Regions from separate parts of the Homo sapiens genome. Here region 1 is linked to region 2. Evidence: fine-mapped expression QTL. A gene starts in region 2. The other region holds a variant in brackets. All regions are shown on one strand. Distances are between the middles of the regions.

Region 1 (8,800 bases), 250 kb after region 2:
CAGCGGCAGTTCCTGAAGCTCGGGGGGCTGCAGGTCCTGAGGACCCTGGTGCAGGAGAAGGGCACGGAGGTGCTCGCCGTGCGCGTGGTCACACTGCTCTACGACCTGGTCACGGAGAAGGTGAGTGCCCAGGCCCACCCAGTCTCCTCTTGTTTGCTTTGTGTGTGCTTCTGGGTGGATGGACAGACAGATGGAAGAGACTGCGGACGTCACTTGTTTGCTTTGTGTGTGCTTCTGGATGGATGGACAGACAGACAGTTGGAAGAGATTGGGGACGTCAGGGAGTATGTCATGTGAGATGTGGTGGCTAAGCTGAAACCTGAGGGCTGATGAGGAGTGGGAGGTGGCCCTGCCAGCCATGGTCACGGCCAAGTGTGCAGGCAGAGGGCTCAGTATGAGGCAAGCCTTGGAGCAGCCGAGACCAGGCCCCGAGGGGACAAAAGGCTGAGGGGGTAGAACAGCCCAGAGCTCCTTCGAATGGCACTCACTCTTCGGATTCTAGAAACGTGGAGGTGCCTCCTCTGTGAGCTTTGGCTCTGGGCAGGGCCTCAGAGTGGCTGCCCTTGAGAGTCTCAGGGACCCAATTGCTTGCCACTTGGGAGGAGACTTGGTGCCCAGCCCTGTTTGCAAGCTTGAAGAAGCATCTTAATTAAGGAGGAGAGAGGAAAACCAGCCAGGCCTGGATTCTTAATTCAGCTACTGCAGAGAGCATTGGCAGGGCTTCCTCAGTTGCCTCTCTCGGGCCACACGCTCCCCAGAAGAGCCGCATGCCGACTAGTGGAGCAGGGCTGGGCAGCCGCTGGAACTGCTGCCGAATGGTGGAGGCTGGGCCCCTCACTCCCTCTGCACACGCCTCCCCCAGGCCTTCTCTCCCAGGCAGTGTCGGGATGGCTGTGGCCACCTCTGTCCATCACTGTCTCTCCCCAACTCTCTGTCTTTGCCTGTTTCTCTCTCTTCTCTTGTTAAAGCTGCAGAAATCCAGTTTCTTAGAACAGCAGGCAGCCATGTGGTGCTCAGATCCAATTGATAAGGCCTGGGCACAGTTCAGGTTCTGGGACTGGGCCAGTGAGCCTGGAGAAGGACATGTCAGCTGGCTGGGCATTTCCCAGGGAAACTGGGCTCTGTTCTCTGGTGTCTTGGGTGTGTGTCCCTGCTGCCCCCAGCCCTGGCATCCTGGGCACTATGGCACTGACACATTGCTAGCACACTACCACCAGGCAGGCTCACCAAGGCTGCCCCGAGGCTGCCGGCCCCGGGAGCCTGCCTCTGGAAGCTTTGGGGTGCTGACATGATTGGGGAGGGGAGGACTGGCATCTCTCTACAAACAGTACAGAAATGGCCCTCTTCTTTCAGGGAGGACAGCAGATAAATTTCAGCCAGAGAGATTTAGGACACACTGTACTTGGGCTGAGGCAGTCAGGGCTTCTCTGTTCTTGTGATTTCTTTTTTCTTTTTTCTTTTCTTTTCTTTTTTCTTTTTTTTTTTTTTTTTTGAGACAGGGTCTCTCTCTGTCACCCAGTGGCACGATCTTGGCTCACTGTAAACTCTGCCTCCCAGACTCAAGTGATCCTCCCACCTCAGCCCCCTGAGTAGCTGGGACTACAGGTCCATGCCACCATGCCTGGTTAATTTTGTTCGTTTTTTGTAGACAGGGTCTCACTATGTTGCTCAGGCTGGTCTTGAACTCCTGGGCTCAAGCAGTCCTGCCTCAGCTTCCCAAAGTATTGGAATTATAGGCGTGAGTCACTAAGTCCAGCCTCTTGCAGCGCTTAAGAATGAAGACCTAGCCAAGCTAGGGGTGGGTCCAGAGCTGCCTGAAGGTGGAGGGACATGAGCTGTCCACCACGATGGAGGGGTGCCATGCAGCTCGGGGATCACTGCAGCATGTTGTCATGACAGCCAAGGACTGTGGAATTCCCATGGGCAATGTGACACCCCCATCAGGGTGCTGGGGTCTGCCAGGCCCCAGGCAGTCCTCATATGTACCTTGGCCTGTGAGAGGACCTCTACTGAGAGACCATGCCCTGACATCTGGGCTTCTGCAGTGGTGAGATGCCTGCCTGGGGTTTGGATTCCATGGCCTCTGGTGCATCTGAGGAGCTGAAGGGCCGCAGGGGGACCCTGCCTGCCTGTGCTGCCTGCTGTGCCGGGTGCTGGGAAAATAATCCGCAGTCCCTGTCGTCCCTGAGCTTTCAGGCAGATGTTTATCAGAGAATTCCCCTGAGCTTGTGTTGTAGTCTGTCTGCTGCTGCTTTAACAGAATACCCGGGACTGGATAATATAAAGAAAAGGCAGTTTTTGGCTCATGATTCGGGAGGCTGGGAAATCCACGATTGGGTGGGTGCATCTGGCGGGAGCCTTTGTGTTGCATGACAACATTGTGGAAGGTGAGAGGGCAAGAGCACTTGCGGAAAAAAGCATGCTGGGCCGGGCTTGCTCTCTAGAATAACAACCGCTCTCCCGTAAGGAACCCGCTGCCCTCCTGACCTAGGCAGCTCCTCTCAATACTGCTGCCTTGGGAATTAAGCTTCCAACACTTGAACTTTTAGGGAACACACTCAAACCACAGCAGCATATAAGCAGAGAAGGCCAGTCAGGGGAGGCCGGTCAGTGGCGGTGAGGTGTGCAGGGAGCCGTGGAGTGAATGGGGCCAATGCGGGGGTGCACCTGGAAGTCGGAGCTGCGCCTCCAGAGGCCCCAGGGGAGAGTTAGAGTGACAGGAGTGGGTGTGAGTGGGTCCAGGCCGCGCACAGTGGGGGCAGAGCCTGCAGAGCCTCGCAGTCCCAGGGAAGGGATTGATTTTGTCTTTATCACCCGCAATGCCAGGCTGTGAGGGTTTGGGGGCTGGAGGAGAGGGTGAGAGCAGGAGGCACTGGATCGCAGGACACAAGGGACAAAGGTGGAGCTGACAGAATTGGGGTGTGTTTTGGAAGCGAAGCTGGCAGGACTGAGGGGTGAAGTAGGAAAGGACTAGGGGATACCTCTCAGCCTCTCCTGTCCCAGGATGCAGGATTGCACCCCTCCTCAGTTTCCTCTGCCAGCCCCAATCAGCCCCACGACTTCCTGCTGCCGCAGGAAGCACAGGTGGTCCACTGTGGCCTCCTCTTCTCCTGGGCTTCCCTCTTGCCTTGTGCATCTTCCCTGTGCTTCATTCTCCCCTGGAGTTAGGGCAGGCATTCCTTCTTTCTCCATACAGGCACACTTCCTACAGCTGCACGGGAGATCTCTGCCCCCTCCCAACCCTCTACCTCTGACCTTCAGGTAACCTGCCTGCTTGTCATGGTTCAGGTGTTGGCTTTCCCGCTGCTGGTAGCCCGGCAGGATTGGCTCCCACCATGTTCTGCTGATAGAGCTGGGCTTCTGCGCTTTACAGACAGGCTGAGTTTCTCCACTTAGGAGGTGATGACGATGAGTCTCAGGGAGGCTAAGTGCCAGCCATGGTCATTCAGCAAGTCAGTGGTGGAGCAGGAATTTGAAGCCAGCCTGTCTGCCTCCATGCTGCACTGTTAGATTACATTTATGCTATTTGGGAATTAGTTAATTTTTATTCTCCTGCTAGACCTTAAGCTCCTTGAGGGTAAGACTATGTCTCCATCGTGGTTTCTTCAGCACCTGGCACCACACAAGTGTTTCTGTTGGTGGATGAATGAATGAATAGACAGACAGACTTGGGGATAGAGGAAGAGGTGGGCCCTCAGGGGTCAGCCTCGTGCCTTCCTGTCTGAAGGGCAGAGCTAGCCAGGTGTGAGCTAACTGCTCCCTGTGTGTTCTCTCCCCACCCCCACCCTACCTGGCCTGCGGCTGTGGCGGATGGCAGATGTTCGCCGAGGAGGAGGCTGAGCTGACCCAGGAGATGTCCCCAGAGAAGCTGCAGCAGTATCGCCAGGTACACCTCCTGCCAGGCCTGTGGGAACAGGGCTGGTGCGAGATCACGGCCCACCTCCTGGCGCTGCCCGAGCATGATGCCCGTGAGAAGGTGCTGCAGACACTGGGCGTCCTCCTGACCACCTGCCGGGACCGCTACCGTCAGGACCCCCAGCTCGGCAGGACACTGGCCAGCCTGCAGGCTGAGTACCAGGTGCTGGCCAGCCTGGAGCTGCAGGATGGTGAGGACGAGGGCTACTTCCAGGAGCTGCTGGGCTCTGTCAACAGCTTGCTGAAGGAGCTGAGATGAGGCCCCACACCAGGACTGGACTGGGATGCCGCTAGTGAGGCTGAGGGGTGCCAGCGTGGGTGGGCTTCTCAGGCAGGAGGACATCTTGGCAGTGCTGGCTTGGCCATTAAATGGAAACCTGAAGGCCATCCTCTTTCTGCTGTGTGTCTGTGTAGACTGGGCACAGCCCTGTGGCCGGGGGGTCAGGTGAGTGGTTGGGTGATGGGCTCTGCTGACGTGCAGGGCTCAGCCCAGGGCATCCAGGAACAGGCTCCAGGGCAGGAACCTGGGCCCAGGAGTTGCAAGTCTCTGCTTCTTACCAAGCAGCAGCTCTGTACCTTGGGAAGTCGCTTAATTGCTCTGAGCTTGTTTCCTCATCTGTCAGGAGTGCCATTAAAGGAGAAAAATCACGTAGAAAGCTTCACACTAGTGCTGGCACCCCCC[A/CA]GCTGTGAGGTAAGGCAGGGAATCATCTCACTGCCCCTCTATCGGTGCCCACATAACAGCCTCAAGGCCGCTGACCTGGCCGGCGCCTGAGGCCTGTCCATACACTGGTGCTGTGGTGACCCAGGCAGCTGATGGGCTTGACAGCTGCTGGAGTGATGGGTGCTGGAGCAATGGGTGCCGGGGTGGGGTGCTGAGAGGTGCTGGACTCTGGAGGCCCAGGGGCCAGGCCTTACTCTGGGAGAAAGCTGGCAGTGGGAGCCCAGGGGAGCCCAGGCCTGCCTGGCCCACCTGACAGGGGAGAAGTGCCTCTCTGTGGCCTTGCACCACTTCTGTGTCCAAGCAGAAACAGGGCCAAGCCCAAGGAGGAGGCCTCAGAGCTGGGAGCAGCCGTGCCTGGCGAGTCCCGGCCCCTACCCAGGCTGGCGGAGTCCCGGGCTGGAGCTGGCTGCAGGTTGCCATGGCAACCCGGGCTCTGGGCTTTTCAGACTCGGATTCTGGTGTGTTTGTTTCTCAGCTTTCCCAGTGCACCAGAGGCTTGCTCTTGCGGGCCCAGGCAGCCCCTCCGGCCCCCAGGTGGTAAAGTCGGGAGGGCCAGTCTGGGGCAGGACTCTCCTCTCCCTGGCTCTAGGCCTCACTTGTAGAAATCTCAGTTTTACTGAGCTGAGGGCAAATTGAGGCCCAGAAAAACATGGGGTCAGTAGTTGGCCTTCCCTGCAGTCCCTTTGCTTGGCCACCTGGCTCTTCTCCTCAGCCCCTCTCCTGCTCGCCTCTTGCCGCAACACGACACGCAGGAAGCTCGGAGCAGAGCCACGGCCTGCACGGAGCCCCTCCCAGCAGGGCAGGCTGGAGGCAGGAGTCCAGGCTGATGCTGGAGTAACAGCTTCCCCAGGGCGGGAGGCCTCAGGGCTAGGGCAGAGTGGGGAACAGACTCGCAGTCTGCCAGCCATTGGGTACCTGCTGCCTTTACAGCCTCGCAGGAGTCTTCGAAGTAGATTTTACAGATGAGGAAATCATGGCTCAGAGAGGCCAAGTGATCTGCCTGTGGGGGCAGCAGTGGGCCTGCGGTGCTGATGGTGCTGTGGGAGGCTTGAATGGGAGGCCAAGAAGGGGACGATGTTGAACTGACAGGCAGCGGAGGGAGGACCACGAGAAATGGCCGGGCATGTGTGGCCACAACAGGGCAGGCAGGTTTCAGACAGGAGGTGCCAGCGCCTGGATGAGGCCAAGGTCAAGGGGTGCTTTAGAGGTAGTGTTGGAAGATCTAGCGTAGACTTGAGAAAGGGGCAAGGTGAGGTTTGATGGGGAGAGGGGCTGCCTCAGCAGAGGCTTGGAAGACAGGAGGACTTGGGGCTGGGCTGGGGATGAATCTATTCTAGGCTTTCAGCATTCAGAGGTGAGCACCAAGGCTGGACAGTGGGAACAGTGGACAGGCGAGAGTGTGGGGCCTTGTGGGGAGGCCAGGCCGGGCGCTCGGCTGTGTCAGGACCAGGCTGGCCCTGGAGGCCTCTGTGACCACCAGGGTCTGGCCCGGGGTGTGGAAAGCGTCCCTATGGGAGGAGTGCCACTAGTAGGGGCCTAACTGCAGTCCCCAGTGTCCCCTCTGCCCCCAGGTGTGCTGCCCTCAGCAGCGATTCTGTAAAGCAGAGGGAGGCTTTGGGCCAGGTGCTCTTGAGAGGATTTCTGGGAGCGAGGATGGAGGAACGGGCACCTGGGGGCTGTAGGGAGGGGGCTGGACCAGCGCCAGGCTGCTGAGCCCGAGGCCTGGGAGGTGGGACTGCGTGCACTCTGCCCTCACACACTCAGAGCATCGGAATGGGAGTTGGGCTGCAGTCTCTCTCCTCATTGGCCGCATCCAGGTTCGTTCTGGACTGTTAAGCAGACCCTCCAGGGAGAGGGTGGCGAGGCGCCCCAGGGTCTGGGCTTGGGCTGCTTGGGGGTGGGTTCTGGCTCCGCCTCCTGATTCATCGCGGCTTGTTGTCTGCAGGTCAGGAAGGAACCCCTTCTCTGCCTTCCCTTTGGCTGCCATCCTGGGAACTGTGGTCAAGGAGTGTGACCGGGGCTCGAAGTGAGGCAGGGAGTGGTGACGGGGGAGGTGGGACTTCCTCCTGTGGGGCTGGAGCCTGCTTTCCTGTCCTCACTGTCTTGGGATGGGCTGAGAGGTGTGCTGGGCTGACACCCACAGGCCCTCAGTGATTATTGGGTCCCTGCTCCTGGGCTGGGCTGACCCGGGCCCTAGTGTGGGAGGATGGCAGGGAGGGTGGTGGGCCTAGGTCCTCACCCCATCCCTCAGCAGCTGTGGTTTTATGAGTTCACTTGTTCATTCATTATTTCATTCACACTGTGGCTGTTGAGCAGTCGTGTGTGTCAGGCAGTTGGAGCTGAGAAGTCTGCTGAGCTGGGTGAAGCCAAGGAAAGGCCTCCCAGAGCTGGTGATGGCCAGGCTAAGCCCTGCAGGCTGCAGGAGTAGCAGTCAGGGATGGGCAGTTGGAAGGGCCAGTCTGGGGCAGGCAGGGCAAGGGCTCTGGCCCTGGGAAGATACAGGAAGGCCAGAGAGTGGCCATTTGCAGAATCCACAATTTCGGGTCCTCCGGCAGCTTGTCAGCCCTGCCAAGGGCTGTGCCCTCATCCTAGCAGGTGTTCTCTGGGCTGCTGCTTATTCATTCATTTGTTCAACAAATCTGGTTGGGTACTACGAGCCAGGCACTGTTCTAGGGCAGGAAGTGGTAGGACAGGAGGGGAGAGGGCTGGACCATGATAAATACACATGCTTCAGGGGAGGGCCAGGCAAGGAAGACAGAGCCCAGTGGGAAGGGAAGAGGGGTAGGCACTGCTGTTTCCCCTCAGTGGTGGGGAAGGCCTCTGAGGAGGGGCCAGGCACAGGAGCGCAGCAGTGAGCCATGGGGGTGCTTTGTAGACAAGGGGATAGCAGAGGCAAAGGTCCTGCAGGAACAGGCCAAAGCACTTCAGGAAAAGCCATGAGAACCAGGCCTGGAGCAGGCAGAGACCGAGGGAGGAGTTGCAAGGGAGGGCCGCCTGGGGAGGCTGTGGAAGGGACCTGGGATTTTCTTTGAGGTGGGGCTGTTGAGAGTTGGGTGCAGAGGAGAGACCTGATGTAACCCACCTTTTTCTTTTTGAGACAGGGTCTTGTTCTGTCACTCAGGCTAGAATGCAGTGGTGTGACCATGGCTCACTGCAGCCTTGACCTGCTAGGCTCAAGTGGTCCTCCCACCTCAGCCTCCAAAGTAGCTGGGACCACAGGTGCAAGCTGTCACGCCCAGCTAATTTTTTTCATTTTTTTGTAGAGGTCTCCCTATGTTTTCCAGGCTTGTCTTGAGCTCCTGGGCTCAAGCGATCCTGCTGCCTCAACCTCCCAAAGTGCTGGGATTACAGGTGTGAGCCCCTGTGCCCGGCCTCACCTTTTCTTACTGTTGTGGTGAGAATAGATGACACAGGGGCCAGGAGGGGCAGGGAGCCCAGGGCAGCATCCAGGGGGCAGCTGGACAAGGATGTGGGGCAGGGTGAAGACATAGGACTGTGAGAAGTGTGCAGACTCCAGATGGGGCTGAGGCAGAGCTCAGGGCTCTGCTGGCGGGATGCAGGGTGTGGGGAGAGGAGTCGAGGGGATGGAGCAGATGGGCGTGGGGAGGAGCTGGTACCAGAGTGGGAGCTTGGAGAACAGGGGAGTGACTGGGGCTCTGAGGTGGACCCTGTTGATGTTTATATGGAGATGTCAGCAGGACATCCAGGTGGGGGTGCTGACAGGCAGCAGCAGACAGCCTGGAGCTGAGAGAGAGGCTGGGTGGGGGATACTGACCAGGCCTGGGAACCTCACACAAGGGAGCCGCAGGGTTCAGAATGTGGCCAGCTGGTTGTTAAACACAGCCATTATTAAAACTAAATGATGCAAGTGTACAATTAAGTAACACCAAGAAAGCAAAGGTAATTTTTAAAAACTAGTAAAAGAAGAGCAAATTAAAACCAAAGGAAGCAGAAGAAAAGGAAATAATAAAGAGTGGAAACCAATAAAATTGAAGACAGTAAAACTAAAGAAAATCAATGAAATTAAAAGATGGTCCTTTGAAAAAGAGAGAAGACATAAATCAGCAGCCTCACGGATGAAAACGGGGTGTCACTATAGGCTCTACGAGCATTAAAGGATAGTGAGTAGTGAGTATTATGAACAACTCTAAATAAATACATTGT
Region 2 (8,964 bases):
ACATCCCTTTCAGAGGGGCTGGAAATGCTTTTTTTTCTCCCCCTTTTCTGCTTCTGAGGCCTTCAGAAATAAGCCAGAGACAGAGAAAAGCACAGTTACTGGAGTCCTTGAAGCCTCTTGGGGTGGAGAGATCTAGAATTCTTGAATGCCAGGAAGAAGCTGCTCAGGTGCTGCTTGGGTCCCACAGTAGAGATCATCTGGTCTCTGCCCTGCCTTGGCCACAGCAGCCCACTCCATCTGAGTGCAGCCCAGGAAGTGGAGGAATCTGGTTCGGGAGCAGTTCTCCTGATTTCCCCTGGAGTGCCCCTTAGCTTCCTGCTTCTTCCATGTTGGCCCCTTGACTTAGCTTTTCTGGGAATGCTGAGTGCTCTGGCTTCACACCCCTGCCGTAGCACTGCCTCTCAGGACCTCTCAAGCACTGTTAGACAATAGAGCTTTTTTTTTTTTCTGAGATGGAGTTTCGCTCTTGTTGCCCAGGTTGGAGTGCAACAGCGTGATCTCGGCTTGCCGCAACCTCTGCTTCCCAGGTTCAAGTGATTCTCCTGCCTCAGCCTCCCGAGTAGCTGGGATTACAGGCATGCGCCACCATGCCCAGCTAATTTTTGTATTTTTAGTAGACAGGGGGTTTCTCCATGTTGGTCAGGCTGGTCTCAAACTCCCGACCTCAGGTGATCTGCCTGCCTCGGCCTCCCAAAGTGCTGGGATTACAGGCGTTAGCCACCGTGCCCGGCCACAATAGAGCTTTTTCATAGAAATGTTCCATCATTTTTGTTGTCCAGTATAGTGGACTGAGCATTTGAAATGTGGCTAGTGTAAATAAGAAACTGTATTTTAACTTTTATTTAATTTTAATTAAATCTAAACAACATGCGGCAATTGGCTACCATATTGGACAACACAGCTCTGAAGAGTTCAGTGGGAAGAGTTTTTGTTCATCTGCAAAATAAATCTGCCCCACCTACCTCACAGAGGTGTCTGGAACAAACAAGGTGATAAATGTGAAAGGGCTTTACTCACAAAAGGGATCTGAAAAGACAGCAGTGTGAACCTCTGGAGTGCAGTGGTGCAATCTTAGCTCACTGAAACCACCTCCCAGGCTCAAGTGATCCTCCCACTTCAGCCTCCCAAGTAGCTGGGACCACAGGCATGTGCCACCATGCCCAGCTAATTATTTTATTTTTTTATTTTATTTTTGGTAGAGATGGGTTTTGTCATGTTGCCCAGGCTGGTCTCGAACTCCTGAGCTCAAGTGATCCGCCTGCCTTGGCTCCCAAAGTGCTAGGATTATAGGCGTGAGCCACTGCACCTAGCCCGTTAATATTTCTGTTAAATGGTGCTTGCCAGGCTGTTTTGATCTGTTTACATTTCTGTGTCTCTCATTTGACCCTGAGCTCTTCGAGGGTAAGAACCAGTAGGACTGTTTCACAGTTGTACCCCCACAGCCAATGGCTGGCATGTAGCTTGGTGCTCATGTTCAAGTGAATAAAATGTCTGCAGTCCAGAAGGGACTCCTGGCAGCAGGATCTGAGTTGTGTGGTGAAAGCTGGGTGGGCAAAGAGGAAGGGGCCGAGGGGAGGAGGCAGATCAATACAGTGGTGAGACAAAGTGAGGGCTCCTGCTCCCCACTCAACATTTGAGGCCCATCCAGAGAGAGCAGGGAGCCAACTCCTGAAGCCAGGAATACTTTCACACAACAGGGTGTGAGGCTTGTGGGAGATTAATTGAGAAAGGCTGATCAGAGGAGAAATGATCTACTCAACATATTCTGCTTGTTGAGGAAGGCCAAATTGATTATAAATCTCCGCCTAGCCAGGGCTCTGGGGGTAGGTGCTGTGGTTTCCTTTGATTTGATTGATGGTGGCCGGGTTGAAGGTGATTCCTCAGTCTCTCTACCCTTCCAAGCCTTCCTTTGCTCTTCTGGGGAGTGGAAGAGGGATTCTAGAAACTCCCCAACAGAACTGCAAGAGAGAGGTGGTTTTTAGCCTGTTGTTTACTTATTTAAAAGGATTTTTTTTTTTTTTGAGATAGAGTCTTGCTCTGTCGCCCAGGTTGGAGTGTAGTGGCGTGATCTTGGCTCACTACAACATCCACCTCCCAGGTTCAAGCAATTCTCCCTGCCTCAGGCTCCTGAGTAGCTGGGATTACAGGCGCCCACCACCATGGTTTGCTAATTTTTGTATTTTTTAGTAGAGACGGGGTTTTGCCATGTTGACCAGGCTGGTCTTCAACTCCTGACCTCAGGTGATCCGCCTGCCTCAGCGTCCCAAAGTGCTGAGATTACAGGCGTGAGCCACTGCGCCCAGCCTAAAAGGAAATTTTAAACTTACTTTTGCTCAATTCCAAGACTTATATAAGGAAACAAAGAGAGGAGACTACCAAAATTCCAGCACCCACTGTGATCACTGGACTTGCACCCAAACTTCTCACCTTTACAGTGGGCCTCCTTGCTTAAGGCCGTGTAAGTAGAGGCTGTCTGCTTAGGTTCAACCTTGCACACTGGCTTCAGCAACTCAAGAGGCTTGATTTCAGAGCAAGTTCAGAGCAAGTTCCTCTGAGAAGGTAGTTCTGTCAGGGTATGTCTTTGTCTGTTGGGACTACTATAACAAACACCTTAGGCTGGGTAATTTACAAACAGAAATTTACTGCTCACTGTTCTACAGACCAGGAAATCCAAGATCAAGGTGCCAACAGATTTAGGGGCTGGTGAGTGCTTGCTCTCTATTTCAAAGATGGTGCCTTGCTGCCTTGCTTCACATGGTGGAAGGGGAGATCACTGTGTCCTTCCACGGCAGAAGGGGCAAGGCAGCTCCCTTCAACCTGACCATTTTTATTTTATTTTATTTTTTTGAGATGGAGTCTTGCTCTGTCGCCAGGCTGGAGTGCAGTGGTGCGATATTGGCTCACTGCAACCTCCACCTCCCAGGTTCAAGCGATTGTCCTGCCTCAGCCTCCTGAGTAGCTGGGACTACAGGTGCACACCACCAAACCCAGCTAATTTTTGTATTTTTAGTAGAGATGGGGTTTCACCATGTTGGCTAGGATGGTCTCAATCTCTTGACCTTGTGATCCGCCTGCCTCGGCCTACCAAAGTGCTGGGATTACAGGCGGAAGCCACCATGCCTGGCCCAACCTGCCCACCTTTTAATACTATCACATTGGATATGAGGTTCCAATGTATGAATTTAGGGGAGACACCAACATTCAGACCATGGCAGAGCTTTTCAAGGTTTGGAGACCAGGCCTGGGGTGGCAGTGGGAGACAGACTATCCCTTTCCTACCACATACCTGAGCTGGTTAGATCCGTCCCAAGGAGAAAGGCCCCGCTTTGAGCGCTGGCAGCTGTGTTCAGCTGGACTCTTCTCTTGGCCCAAGCATTCATTTATTCATGCTATTATAAGATTTGAGCTTATTCTATTTTTAAGGCTCTTACTCTTGTAGCACTTTATTAACATCTTTTTTATAACTCGTGCCAGTCTTATTATAATTTATATGTTCATTCTCTAATTTATCACTCATGAAATATTTGTTGAATATTTATTATCTGTACTTATGGTACTAGGCAGTGACATAAGCTAGAATTATTCTTAGGCCCAGTTCTTCTCACTGGTCTCCTGGGTGTTCCAGGGGAAAAGTGAGCTGTTCTCTTTCCAAATCAGGCCCTAGGTGTTTTATCTAGACCTTTCTCATAAACTGGCACTATTCACTGAACTACTGCCCAGGGGCTTGTTCTCCCTTCCCATACTAGTAACCAAGGTTTGCTCAGTGGCTATGAAGTCAGTTTCCCATCTGCTTGAAGTAAACATAATCAAGAAGGTAAATTGTCTGCTAGAAGCTCATAGAGTACATGGAAAAGGGAAGGGAAGTCCAGAAATAGGTTGTTTGCTATTGGGAAATACTTGCCATTTGGGGAGGTAACTGTCTGGATTACTGTTTTCTCCACTCATGAATGACCAGGAATCACTATGTGGGGGATCTGAGGGCAGGAGGGGGCAGTCATTTTTATTCATCAGGTTAAGCATGTCTAGGCAAGGGGAAGGTCTAAAAGTGGAATAGTGGAAAGAGAACAGGACATTGGAGACACTTAAATCTAGCTTTAACTCCCAGTTCTACCACTTCCTGACTGTATGACTTTGTATAACTCCTTTAGCCTCTTTGAGCGTCAGCTTCTCCATTTATAAAAAGGGGATGACCATTCTGCTCAGAGGACGTTATAAGTAAATAAAATATATATGCAGCACCTGGTACAGAAAGCATGATATTCACTGGTACAGCAGAATTACAACTGCGTTGACACCAGCCTGGGCAACATAGCGAGACCCTGTCTGTAAAAAAAAAAAAAAAAAAAAAATTAGCCTGGCAACGGTGGCACGCGCCTGTGGTCCCAGCTACTGGATGGAGGCTGAGGGGGAGGATCCCTTGAGCCTGGGAGGTCAAGGCTGTGATAAGCCAAGATCCTGCCACTGCACTCCAGCCTGGGGGACACAGATTCTGTCTTAAAAAAAAATCAGAATCGCAAGTGACCTTTATTTTATTTTATTAGATTTTGAGACAGAGTTTCACTCTGTCACCCAGGCTGGAGTGTAGTGGCACGATTTTAGCTCACTGCAACCTCTGCCTGGTGGGTTCAAGCGATTCTCCTGCCTCAGCCTCCCAAGTAGCTGGGATTACAGGCGCTCGCCACCACGCCTGGCTAATTTTTGTATATTTAGTAGAGACGGGGGTTTCACCATGTTGGTCAGGCTGGTCTTGAACTCCTGGCCTCAAGTGATCTGCCTGCCTGGGCCTCCCAAAGTGCTGGGATTACAGGTGTGAGCCACCGCGCCCGGCCACCTGATGCTATTTTTAAAATAACTGGTCCTTGTAAAAAATCTACACAAGTATATAAAGTGAGTGGCTTAAAGGTGTCCTATTTTGCATGAATTTGCGAGAAATTTTATTGCTGGAGACTCTCGGCTTCTGTCCCAAACTGAGTCACAAGAACTTGATTTATTTTTACTCCGCACCCCTCTGATTGCTTTCTGAGGGTCCTTCCGCTAGAAAGAAATTACATTGTTGGAAAATCAGACAGGAAACTTCGCAGTTCCAGCCTGGAAGCAAAAGCAGGCGTGAAGCTATCTCTTCAGCCCTCCCTCCCCCCAAGGGGAGGGGCACGGGGGCAGCTCGTGCAAGAGTCTGCAGAGGGCGGGGCTAGGGGCGGGGCTCCCACCTCGGTGCGGGGCGGGGGGCGCCGCGCGCTGGTCTGGCGGCCCGCGATTGGGCGAGGCCGCGAGCGGCGTGACAGCTGCCAGCTCACCGGCTCAGACGGTCGCCGCCGCGTTTGCGCAGGGGGAGCTGGTCGCCGCCGCGGCCGCCTGGAATTGTGGGAGTTGTGTCTGCCACTCGGCTGCCGGAGGCCGAAGGTAGGGGCGGTGAGGGCCGCCCGGCCCTGGAGCTGGGCGGGGGGCTCAGGGCGCTTCCTGGGCCTCCTCCTGCCGGCGGCCTCGGCGCCTTCCCAGCAGTGTTCTGGGGACCCACACATCCTCACTAGTGTCTCCAAAGCGGGACGTCCAAGTGGGCCCGGGGCTCCCTGCCGAAGGCCTACCTTTCTTATCTTTCCCACTCAGAATGTCTCCATTCACCTCTTTATTGGCAGGAGATGGGGCCGTGGAAATTTGAGATTGGCTTTGGCTCCGCACCTGTTTTTAGTGCCCTTGCCTGTTTCATTCTCCCAGCCTAAGTTTCCGTATCTGTCCGAAGAAGGGGTGGTTTGGTGTTGATCTCCGAGACCCGTGTGTCTCTTCCCATGTGGAATTATTGTCACTCTCTTATTGCTTGTTTTTCTTTGTCCTGGAAAATTTGCCTTTAGAGGTTACAGACTGGTTAGTGTTATCTCTCGGATCGTCTAGGGGCTTTGTGCATAAGCCTTGGGCTCCATTCCCTGGGATTTCCGATAAGATGGTGCGTGGGCAGCTGTACCCCAGGGGGTTCTCATTCAGGTGGTCCCGGAATCCTGGCTTTGAAAATCCCTGCTTCAGAAGTCAGGAGAGAATGACTTGACATATGAGCCCCTGGAATGGGGCTCTGAGTGGGAAAAGCCAGGAATCAGGAAATGCTAACACGTGTGAGGCTGGGGCTTTCTTTGCACCGGAGGAATTAGAATGCCATTTGATGTCTTTTAAAAATATTTGACTACCTATATATGTAAGATCAGTTTTCTAATATTCTTAAATGCCTGGCTTCGTTTAAAGTTCAGTTGGCTTTCCCACCTCAATAAACCTAAATAAAAACATGATCTGAGAGATGGGGCGGGGGTTAAGTTAACCCAAACTAAGTAGACAGGAGGAGAATGAAACTTACATATTTGCTAAGAGAAGAAAGTGATGTGTTTATAAACAGTTTTTTTTTTTTTTTTTTTTTTTTGAGGCGGAGTTTCGCTCTTGTTTCTCAGGCTGGAGTGCAATGGTGCCATCTCGACTCACAGCAACCTCCGCCTCCCAGGTTCAAGCGATTCTCCTGCCTCACCTTCCCGATTAGCAGGGATTACAGGCATGCGCCATCGTGCCCGGCTAATTTTCTATTTTTAATAGAGACAGGGTTTCTCCATGTTGATCAGGCTGGTCTCGAACTCCTGACCTCAGGTGATCTGTCTACCTCGGCCTCCCAAAGTGCTGGGATTACAGGCATGAGCCACCTCGCCTGGCATATAAACAGGTTTTTTTTTGACATTGTGAAAGATATTTTGTTGTGTGTGTGTGTCTTTTCTGCTCTCACCCCACCCAAGTTTTTTTCTTTTCTGATAAAAGTATAGCCAGATTTGGGGATTGGGTAGGATTTTGATGGGAGCCAGAGTGTAACGATATTGGGATTGATATTTGTATAACATGGGTCAGAACTTGGTCTGTGGTTTTGAGAACATGGCTCTCGGGTTTTTAAGATGGTGTTACCACACCACATTTATTTCCCCTTTCTTTCATTTGTTTAGTGAATTTAATCTGCTCATGAATACATGTGCTGTTTTAATGAAATTGGCAATAGAAGAGACGTTCTGCTCCCATTTTACAGGTGATGGAAATGTTAGTAGGGATGCGGCAGTCCAGGAATGAAAAGTTGCCTAGTACTTTGATTCCCACTTACTTCCCCTTCCCTGCTGTTTTCTGAAGGCCAGCTATTACTTCTCTACTGAGGCCAACTGTGAGCCCTGGTGTGTTTCATTGGCAGGAGAAGAGGCTAATTAAGTGAAACTGAAAGGTAACAAAATGGATTTTAAAATAACTGACATGTGGGAACTTGATCCACCAATGAATGTTCTCCTTTAGAGTGATGTGTGCAGGTGTAGGTGGTGGGAGTTGAGGATGGCGTGCCTAAGTGATTTGGCTGTTGTCCAAGGCAGTTTTGAAAATCCACCTCTGGAATTGTTTTCAGAGACCTTTTTGAACCATGCGAGAGATCAGTTTCTTTAATATATTAAACCATACTGTATTATTATTATTATTATTTTTCAGATGGGGTCTCACACTGTGGTTCAGGCCGGAGTGCAGTGGCATAATCATAGCTCACTGCAACCTTGAACTCCTGGGCTTAAGTAATACTCTCACTAAAGCCTCCTGAGTAGTTGGGACTACAGGGGCGCACCACCAGGCCCAGCTAATTTTGTAATTTTAATTTTTGTAGAGACAGGGTCTCGCTGTGTTGCCCAGGCTGTTTTTGAATTCCTGGCCTCAAGCGATTCTTCTGTCTTGGCCTCCTAAAATGTTGAGATTACAGGCGTGAGCCACTGCACACAGCCTATATATATTTAACCCCGAATGGCATGGGTAAGCAACCTTGTCACCTGCCTTGTCTTCAGATGAGTTAACAGTTCTTTTGAAGTGGAAATAACAGATTTTTGGAGGGTGGTGAACATGAGTTTTAATTCTGAGTCTACCACTTATTAGCCACATAACCTTGGATAAGTTACTTCACCTCTGGGGCTCAATGTACCACTACATAACAGTGGGAATAGGGCCGGGCATGGTGGCTCACGCCTGTAATCCCAGCACTTTGGGAGGCCAAGGTGGGCGGATCACGAGGTCAGGAGATCGAGACCATCCTGGCTAACACGGTGAAACCCCGTCTCTACTAAAAATACAAAAAATTACCCGGGCGAGGTGGTGGGTGCCTGTAGTCCCAGCTACTCAGGAGGCTGAGGCAGGAGAATGGCGTGAACCTGGGAAGCGGAGCTTGCAGTGAGCGGAGATCACGCCATTCACTCCAGCCTGGGCGACAGAGCGAGACTCCGTCTCAAAACAAAACAAAACAAAACAAAAAAAACTGGGAATAATATTTACTTTGAAGGGTGGTTAAATGACGTATTACACATGAAAGCTCTTGGGACATAGGAATGCAATAAATGTTTTCACCCTCAAAGAATGAAGATTTGCCGTTAATGAGAATATTCAAAAGAACATGAGAGTCTCTGGCCGGGTGCGGTGGCTCACACCTGTAATCCCAGCACTTTGGGAGGCTGAGGTGGGTGGATCACCTGAGGTCGGGAGTTCAAGACCAGCCTGACCAACATGGAGAAACCCCGTCTCTACTAAAAATGCAAAATTAGCCGGGCGTGGTGGCGCATGCCTGTAATCCCAGCTACTCGGGAGGCTGAGGCAGGAGAATCACTTGAACTCGGGAGGCGGAGGTTGCAATGAGCCGAGATCATTGTGCCATTGCACTCCAGCCTGGGTGATAGAGCGAGAGATTCTGTCTCAAAAAAAAAAAAAAAGGCTCTGAAAGGAAGTTGTACCTTTTTCGAAATAGGTGGATTCTCTTTTTCACATACTTGTGGATTCATACTCTGACCTGCTCAGCCTCCCCCTGTCTTTCTTCATTCATTTTCTGTCCTTTCCTAAGTGAAGTTTTGCTGCAGAGGCTGTCTGCCAGTCTCTTGTAGTAAGCCTCTTTTCAGGAGAGCTAATCTGAACTCTCTTACAATGCTAGTCCCTTAGTCG

Direction of the effects. Alleles are on the strand shown, and positions count from the first base shown. SD is a standard deviation of normalised expression in the study named.
For the expression in stomach of the gene that starts at base 5,301 in region 2, allele A in region 1 goes with a lower level than allele CA (small effect, 0.30 SD a copy in GTEx).

The links.
Region 1: its variant is fine-mapped to the expression of SIL1 in stomach (GTEx, PIP 0.98).

What each region holds. Positions count from the first base shown.
Region 1 is chr5:138,942,491-138,951,290 of GRCh38, reverse strand. SIL1 (SIL1 nucleotide exchange factor) reads left to right here. Exons shown (of 10, transcript NM_022464.5): 9 at 1-120; 10 at 3,818-4,567. The coding sequence ends at 4,174. Among named protein-coding and RNA genes, the nearest start is that of LRRTM2, 72 kb to the right of the region's middle. RefSeq lists an enhancer at 1,578-2,442 and a silencer at 6,882-7,094. The variant A/CA (reference allele first, on the strand shown) is at 4,598.
Region 2 is chr5:139,194,705-139,203,668 of GRCh38, reverse strand. It overlaps SIL1 (SIL1 nucleotide exchange factor), which reads left to right and starts at 5,301. Exons shown (of 10, transcript NM_022464.5): 1 at 5,301-5,400. RefSeq lists a silencer at 5,096-5,625.